Linked DNA regions of Homo sapiens: region 2 is linked to region 1. The links come from fine-mapping of genetic effects on gene expression. A gene starts in region 1. The other region holds a variant in brackets. All regions are shown on one strand. Distances are between the middles of the regions. Region 1 holds the start of NOP10 (NOP10 ribonucleoprotein). Region 2 overlaps SLC12A6 (solute carrier family 12 member 6).

What was found. PIP is the estimated chance that this variant, and not a neighbour inherited with it, causes the effect.
Region 2: its variant is the best candidate, but not a certain one, in a credible set for the expression of NOP10 in unexposed skin (GTEx, PIP 0.89).

Annotation. Positions count from the first base shown.
Region 1 is chr15:34,341,114-34,345,357 of GRCh38, reverse strand. It overlaps NOP10 (NOP10 ribonucleoprotein), which reads left to right and starts at 2,222. Exons shown (of 2, transcript NM_018648.4): 1 at 2,222-2,338; 2 at 3,250-3,639. The coding sequence starts at 2,285. The coding sequence ends at 3,390. NUTM1 (NUT midline carcinoma family member 1) reads right to left here and starts at 2,043. Exons shown (of 8, transcript NM_001284292.2): 1 at 1,656-2,043. The coding sequence starts at 1,661. RefSeq lists silencers at 2,190-2,289, 2,370-2,479.
Region 2 is chr15:34,250,812-34,255,340 of GRCh38, reverse strand. It overlaps SLC12A6 (solute carrier family 12 member 6), which reads left to right. Exons shown (of 26, transcript NM_001365088.1): 8 at 1-79; 9 at 752-993; 10 at 2,957-3,171; 11 at 4,284-4,442. Among named protein-coding and RNA genes, the nearest start is that of EMC4, 28 kb to the right of the region's middle. The variant AG/G (reference allele first, on the strand shown) is at 1,713.

The DNA.
Region 1 (4,244 bases):
TTTGCTGAAAAGCCTCACTAAATAAAAAAGCTGCCATGCAGTTTAAAATTTCAAGAGTAGAAAGTCCTTCTTTTTGTTAAATTATTTTGGTTTAAACTTTAAAAATAAAATTTATCTGCTAAGGTTCCTGGCGACTATTTCAGGCCAGTAACTCCCAGAGCATCCTCTACAGCCACAGCTTCATCCAAACGTGGATTTCCCCCAAAAGGCCTTCCCTGGGGTTCATGGCATCTTTCTTGCTTCCTCTGAGATATCTTTTCTCTTTTCTAAAGACCTGAAGGCTAAAATCATCATTTTCCTTTCTAACAAAATTAACTACTTAGATTTAAATTTTTTTTTTTAAACAGAGTCTCGCTCTGTCACCCAGGCTGTAGTGCAGTGGCGTGATCTCTGCTCACTGCAAGCTCCGCCTTCCGGGTTCACGCCATTGTCCTGCCTCACCCTCCTGAGTAGCTGGGACTACAGGCACCCACCACCATGCCCGGCTAATTTTTTGTATTTTTAGTAGAGACGGGGTTTCACTGTGTTAGCCAGGATAGTCTCGATCTCCTGACCTCATGATCCGCCCGCCTCAGCCTCCCAAAGTGCTGGGATTACTAGGCGTGAGCCACCGTGCCCGGCCTTTAAAAAATTTTTAACAGGTAATAAATACATTAGCAAGGTTCAAAAATCAAACTGCGTAATAAAATACATAGCAATAAGTCTGCCTCCCAACCCTTACCCCTTTCTCCTGCAACTAAGTTCTCTATCCCAGAGGAAACCAGTATCATCTGTTTCTTGTGAATACTTGCAGAGATTTTTTATGCAACTACAAGTAAATACAAACCATATTCTTTTTTTTTTTTTTTTTTTTTTGAGACAGGATCTCGCTCTGTCGCCCAGGCTGGAGTGCAGTGGCGTGATCTTGGCTCACTGCAACCTCCGCCTCCTGGGTTCAAGTGATTCTCCTGCCTCAGCCTCCCGAGTAGCTGGGACTACAGGTGCCCGCCACCACGCCCCGCTAATTTTTGTATTTTTGGGGGTTTCACCATATTGGCCAGGCTGGTCTCGAACTCCTGACCTTGTGATCCACCCGTCTCAGCCTCCCAAAGTGCTGGGATTACAGGCGTGAGCCACCGCGCCCAGCCACAAACCATATTTTTTTTTCTTTAAGACGGACCCAGGCTGGAGTGCAGTGGTGCTATCTCAGCTCGCTGCAACCTCTGCCTCCCCGGCTCAAATGATTCTCCTGCCTCAGCCTCTGAAGTAGCTGGGACTACAGGCGCCCACCACCACGCCCGGCTAATTTTTCTGTATTTTTAGTAGAGACGGGGTTTCGCCAGATTGGCCAGGCTGGTCTCGAACCCTTGACCTGTGATCTGCCTGCCTCAGCCTCCCAGTGTTGGGATTACAGGCGTGAGCCACCGCGCCCCGCCAAACCATATTCTTAAAAAAAAAAAAAAAAAAGTGCAGGTTTTTCTGGTTACACAGTTAATATATATTCCAATGCTTTTGTCATTGTAAATAATGGCGTAACGATGATCTTTGTAATGATATTTTGGTTCTCATTTTCATTTCTTTAAACGAGAGTCTTATAAGGAGAACTTCTATATTCTTTTAAAAATTGTAAAAACTCCTAGAAGGTGCACTTTATTACGTTATTATTAGCTACTCACCACCATAAGAAAGAGCGCTGAATTTGCGGTAGGGACCTAACTTTAAATCTTGGTTCGACCGCTGAAACATGCTTCACCAGTTTCATAAAATAACTTTACGCTCTTTCGCTTTACGGAATATTGATACTCAACATGCATTCTTTACCGCCAACGCTTTGAAATGGAGCAGGGGAACTGGATGTAAAAGAGGGGAGGGAAGAAAACCTCTTCTTTCTTCCCTAGGGTAAAGGGGCTCTGAATCCTGGAGCCCTTGTTTCTTCAGGCATTGAAAACTCACTGCTCCTGAAATGGGTGTGTATCTTGAGACAAAGACAGGCTTCTATACGTCAATATTCTATCCACATCCATCCCTACCCCCCTCTAACGCCGTGTACCTAGCACACAGTAGGGACACTCCACGTGTTTTAGCCTGCAAAGTTGCAAGTAGGGCCCCAAGCCAAGCCCTGCTCTCGTGCGCCCCCTTCTGGCTAGCTGAAAACAAGGCAAAAATTGACTACATTTTCCGGAGTGCCAGGAGAGAGAGACTTCCGGTTATGCAGGAAGGAAATTGACGAACACGTGACGCGGTCGGGCGGACCACTGCAGACTGAGCGGTGGACCGAATTGGGACCGCTGGCTTATAAGCGATCATGTTTCTCCAGTATTACCTCAACGAGCAGGGAGATCGAGTCTATACGCTGAAGGTGAGGAGAGAAAACAGGGTGTAAATAGGCATGGCGAGAAATGTAGATGGGAGGAGTGGGTGAGGTCATACGTGGAGTTACCTAGCTGGGTGCGGGGAACCAGAAAGTCCAGAACCGAGGTGGGGAAGAACCGGGACCGCGCGACTCATTTTTTAATTAAAAGAAAAAATTCTGGCGGGGCGCAGTGGCTCCCGCCTGTAATCCTAGCACTTTGGGAGGCCGAGGCGGGTGGATTGCCTTAGCTCAGGAGTTCGCGACCATTCTGGGCAACACTGTGAAACTCCGTTTCTACTAAAATACAAAAAATTAGCCGGGCATGGCGGTGTGCGCCTGTTATCCCAGCTACTCGGGAGGCTGAGACAGGAGAATCGCTTAAACCCGGGAGGCAGAGGTTGCAGTGAGCCGGGATAGCGCCATTGCACTCACTTTTCCTTTTTTTTTTTTTTTTTTTTTTTAAAGACAGGGACTCGCTTTGTTGCCTAGGCTGTAGTGCGGTGGTGCGGTCTCGGCTCACTGCAACCTCCGCCTCCTGGGCTCAAACAATCCTTCTGCCTCAGCCTCCCGAGTAGTTGGGACTACAGGCGTGCGCCACCATACCCGGCTAATTTTTGGTTTTGGGGTTTTTTGTTTGGTTGGTTGGTTTTGTTTGTTTGTTTGTTGTAGAGACGAGGTTTCGCCATATTGCCCAGGCTGGTCTCAAACCATCCTCCCGCCTCGACCTCCCAAAGTGCCAGGATTACAGGCGTGAGCCACCGCGCTCGGCCTTTTTAAATTTTATATTTCTCTATTTATTTGTACAACTTTTTGAGTTGACCATTGCATCTTCTATTTTCATGTTTGCCCTTTTTCGCGCTGGCCCCACCCCATTTCATCACTCCTGTACTGACATACATTCTGTGTTCCTGGAGCAGAAATTTGACCCGATGGGACAACAGACCTGCTCAGCCCATCCTGCTCGGTTCTCCCCAGATGACAAATACTCTCGACACCGAATCACCATCAAGAAACGCTTCAAGGTGCTCATGACCCAGCAACCGCGCCCTGTCCTCTGAGGGTCCCTTAAACTGATGTCTTTTCTGCCACCTGTTACCCCTCGGAGACTCCGTAACCAAACTCTTCGGACTGTGAGCCCTGATGCCTTTTTGCCAGCCATACTCTTTGGCATCCAGTCTCTCGTGGCGATTGATTATGCTTGTGTGAGGCAATCATGGTGGCATCACCCATAAAGGGAACACATTTGACTTTTTTTTCTCATATTTTAAATTACTACAAGATTATTAAAGATAAAATGATTTGAAAAACTCTTATTTTGTGAGTTGTTGGAGGAAAGGATTGGCAGTATTTTTTTAAAGGGAGGGAGATGATAAAGGAGAGTACCCCAGAGAGTTGCAACAATACCACTTGGAAGAAAAACTTCAGTCCTGCTGTTGCAAGAGTGGTCATGTGCTGTTCATGATAGGAGGGTATTGGGGAAGAAAGATTAAGACTTTCACAGCTGTCAGCATTCACTGAAAAATACCTCTGTTGTCACTTAACGTAATTTCTTGTCCCTTGAAATAAGATTTTGATTAAAAATGGAAGAGTACTTGTAAAAGTAATAGGCATATTACAGACAGAGGTCAGTGAATTGAAAGTCAGAAGACCAGTATTTGCTTTTTGTATAACTTTGAGAAAGTTACTTAACCTGTTTAGTCTGATTTTTCTCCTGATTAACTTATCTTTGAACTCAAATTGATTTAGTGGTGGGCCTTTCTTTTTTTTTCTTTTGAGACAGAGTCTAGATCTGTTGTCCAGGCTGGAGTGCAGGGGTGCAGCCTTGGCTGACTACAACCTCCGTCTCCCAGGTTCAAGCAATTCTCCTGCCTCAGCTTCCCAAGTAACTGGGATTACAGGTGCACGCCACCAC
Region 2 (4,529 bases), 90 kb after region 1:
GGCTGTTGGCCTCTGCTTTTATCTTGGTACCACATTTGCAGCAGCCATGTACATCCTTGGTGCCATTGAAATCTTTCTGGTAAGTAATGACTTCATTGTGGTCTATAATATAGAAGAAATATTGATTTAGGTTTATTCTTTGCTATGAAAGCTTCTGAGAGATCAGCTGTGGGAATAAATCAGGTGATTGACTGCCAACGTCAGTTGGCCTCTTACATGAATATGAGGTGGAAAGGTTGAAATTCTGTTTGCCTGCCTGTCCCTTCCTTTCTACCTGATTGCCACCACTCTGCCACCTCATCCAAGAGGTTCAAGTCCAATGGGGAAAAAGTAAAATAAAGTTTATCTTTTTTGATATCTTCATCCCTATGAAATAAAATGCTTCTCATATCTCTCTTCACTGAGACATATTGTTTACTATTTAAAGTAGTGATAGTAGAGTCAGGGTTAAAGATCATCATTATAATTACTTTATATAACCCTATGAATAAAATTAATAATTTGTTCCTTTCCTTTCTTTCCATTTGGAAATGTAGTTATTCAGAACAGCATGTAGACCAAAAAAAAAAAAAAAATCCATGACATCCCATTTCTGAAGGCATTTCAGATCCTATTAGAAACTAGGCTAATTCCCCAGTCATTTTCTCTCTCAGCTTTGCTTTCTTTTGTGAAAGTAAATGCAAACGAATACAGCCTTTTTACTTAATTATTTTGAAATAACCTAATTTTCTCCTTTATTTTTACCTAACAGGTCTATATCGTCCCCCGAGCTGCCATCTTTCACAGTGATGACGCACTCAAGGAATCAGCAGCCATGCTAAATAACATGCGTGTCTACGGCACAGCTTTCTTGGTCCTTATGGTATTAGTGGTATTTATCGGCGTACGCTATGTGAACAAGTTTGCCTCACTTTTCCTGGCCTGTGTCATTGTGTCCATCTTGGCCATCTATGCTGGAGCCATCAAGTCTTCTTTTGCTCCTCCACACTTCCCGTACGTGTCTGTCTCTCTGCCTAGCCATCCTTATTGGGTAGTAATTGAAAATATCTGGTGGTGTGATAATTTTAAGTCAGAATTTCATAGAGTCTCTCTGAGATTTTCCCTCTCAGATAAGCCCAGTTAGACTTCCTTCCTCATCTAGGCAGGAAGCCTACCAGCAAACTATGTCCCGTTCATCCTCTTTCTTATGTCCTAAGCATAGAACTAGTAGCTGTAACCATCATTTAGGTTCAGATATTAGATTTTTTTCTCCCTGATAATTGTACATAATCTTTTTTTATTATACACATTTTGAACTATTCATAAAGGGCTTTGCAGACAGTGTAGTTATTGCCAGCAACCTTTATAAGGCCCACCTTGGCCTCCCGACGTGCTGGGATTACAGGCGTGAGCCACTGCGCCCAGCCTAGGTCAGGGCTTTTATCCATTACCCAAATAATGTACTTTGTACCCATTAAGTACTCTCTCATCATTCACCACCTCCTTCAACTCCCTAGTGCGAATACTTTAAAGTATGTTTTTTGAAGTAGTAATGGATTTGTGCACATCTGTGACTCACAGGCTCACTTTTCCCTTTGACTAGTGGCATAGGGACTAGCTGGCACTCAGTGTTATTTGTAGTCTTGTTACAGAATTATCTTGAAGAGTCATCTGGATTATCTGAGGATCAAACTCATCGGTTCTATGTTGATTTAACCAGATTACAGAAAAAA[AG/G]ATTTTTCAAGACAAAAAGACAGTTCCAGTAGGTTTAATGACTTACCTCAAAGTTAATTAATGGCAGAGCAAGAAGATGAACTGTGATTTCCTGACTCCCCATTCAGTATTTCTTCTATGCTATGCTGCATGATGGCAGAAGTAGATTCCATCTTAAACTTTTAATCTGCTTATCTAGGGACTGTAATACAGCTGAAGGTCCTTTTTAGGGGCATAAAATTTCTAAAGGTGACATTCTGGTTATATCTCAATTTGGGAAATTCCATTTTGTCTCAGGTTCACCTTTGGGGCTTCTCCTCTTTTTTGATTAGTACACGGTCATAATGCATGGTATTTTCTTTGAGATATTCCAGCAAAACAAGACAAAAAATCTAGAATAATACATGAAACAAGACTGGGAAATGTTGAGAGTTGTTGAAGCTGAGTAATAGGTACATGGTTCATAATAATGTATTCAATCATTTTGCAAATTTTAGAAGTCCCTTTGTTGGACCTGAGAGGTATTTTAACTATGGATGTATTATTCCTTTGTTTATATTTGTGTCTCTGGGTTAAAGAAAAAAGTAAAACCAGCAGGTTAATATTTATGTTATCCTTACCGTCACTCCCACTGAGTCTAGGCTTAAATTCAAAAACAGTTTTCTCTTAGGCCATAGAGGGATCTGCCTTTTAATTCTGACCAAGCTGTTTTCCTTGCAACAGTAGCCAGAAGATTCAACCTTTAGCATAACATTTTCAAGGTGTTTGTTATGAATGTTAGGCTTTTCTAGGCCAAAAAAAGAGGAGTGCTTTTTACTTTATAAGAACAACAAAAGGACTTCAGTATTCTTTTAGACCTAACAATTTTAGCCAAAAATTTTGGAAGATGAGTCAGCATAATGTCTTCAGACAGTTCTTCAATTTGACTTCCTTCACTGCCACCACCTATGACCTTGGACAGATAACTGTATTTCCCTAACCTTCAATTAACTCCCTGTCTTCCTAAACTTCAGTGCCTCCATCCACAACATAGAAATTCTAATACATTGTGAGGTTGCTGTAAGTATTAAATTGGCAGAAAATGTAAGTCACCATTCACAGTGTTAAAATAAATTATAAATAAATAAACATTAGTTCCTTTCCCACCCATAACAGTAGAAGCTCTTAAAGATGGGGTTCTTGTTTCCTTTACTAACCTGTTTCCTTTTTTTTTAATGTACTTTTTTTCCTTACTTGATCTTTCTCCCTATTTCTTTTCACTTAGGGTCTGCATGCTGGGTAACCGCACCCTTTCATCAAGACACATTGACGTTTGCTCTAAGACCAAGGAAATTAACAACATGACAGTCCCATCAAAGTTATGGGGATTCTTCTGTAACTCGAGTCAATTTTTCAATGCCACCTGTGATGAATACTTTGTTCACAATAACGTCACTTCAATCCAGGGCATTCCTGGATTGGCTAGTGGTATAATTACAGGTAAGTTAGGGAGTTATTGGACAAGTTTTTTCCTATTTTCTGGGGAAAATAGGCCTTGTCATCTTAGATTCCTCTACTGTCCATAAAGATTCACTGCCATGGTGCTAATTCCCTTCTTAAGCACACCACACAGCTCTTAATTCACCATATTTCTGCTTTTCCATTAGTAAAGCTGTCCTTATTCAGTACTCCTTTACAGAGTGATGTCTGCTAAAATTCACCTCCATTTCAGAGCAGAGTTGAGCAAATCACTTTCTAACCTTACGGTAAAATATTCCGTGTATTCTTGTAAAATTGCCAATGTTCTTCCTGCACTGACAGAATAGACCTGTTTTAATGTCCACATCCACATGTATCTTCCTAACTTAGCTAAATTCCTGAAACATTCCTTAAGTGTCTTCTATTATAAATGTTTGGTCTATAAATTTCTTTGCACATAAGTAAGTTTACATTAAGGTGTTAGAAACAGCACTGATGACAAATAATAATGGGATTTGTGGGGCATTTAGTTTTAGTCTGTTTAACTTTTACTAATTTGCATTAGTAAAGTTAAACTATATTTGCATGTACCAAATCATTTTGTCAAATTATATTTAAATTAGATAAGAAAGAACATTATGTTTAGCTGGGCGCCGTGGGTTATGCCTGTAATCCTAGCACTTTGGGAGGCCTAGGTGGGAGGATCATGAGGTCAGGAGATCGAGACCATCCTGGCTAACATGGTGAAACCTCGTCTCTACTAAAAATATAAAAAATTAGCTGGGCGTGGTGGCAGGCGCCTGTAGTCCCAGCTACTCAGGATGCTGAGGCAGGAGAATGGCGTGAACCTGGGAGGCAGAGCTTGCAGTGAGCCAAGATTGTGCCACTGCACTCCAGCCTGGTGACAGAGTAAAACTCTGTCTCAAAAAACAAACAAACAAAAAAAAAACTATGTTTTTATTTATGTGTGTTTTATTGTGCAATGTGTGTGTATACATGTGCTCATGTAGAAGCAAACACACCTTTAGAAACTGTATAAATGAGGAGCCTGATTTTGAATGTTTGGGTAGAAAATTAATTATCTTTTTTTTTTCATACTGCTGCTGCTTAAATTCCCATTTTTCCCACTGCAGAGAATCTTTGGAGTAATTACCTACCCAAGGGAGAGATCATCGAAAAGCCTTCAGCCAAATCTTCTGATGTCTTAGGCAGCTTAAACCATGAATATGTTCTTGTTGACATCACCACCTCCTTCACGCTTCTGGTGGGAATCTTCTTTCCCTCTGTTACAGGTAAACACATAGGCTGTTGTATATTTTAGAAGCTGTCAGACCCACGGAGTGATTTTTCTCAGGAGGCAGAATTCTCAGGGTTCCTAG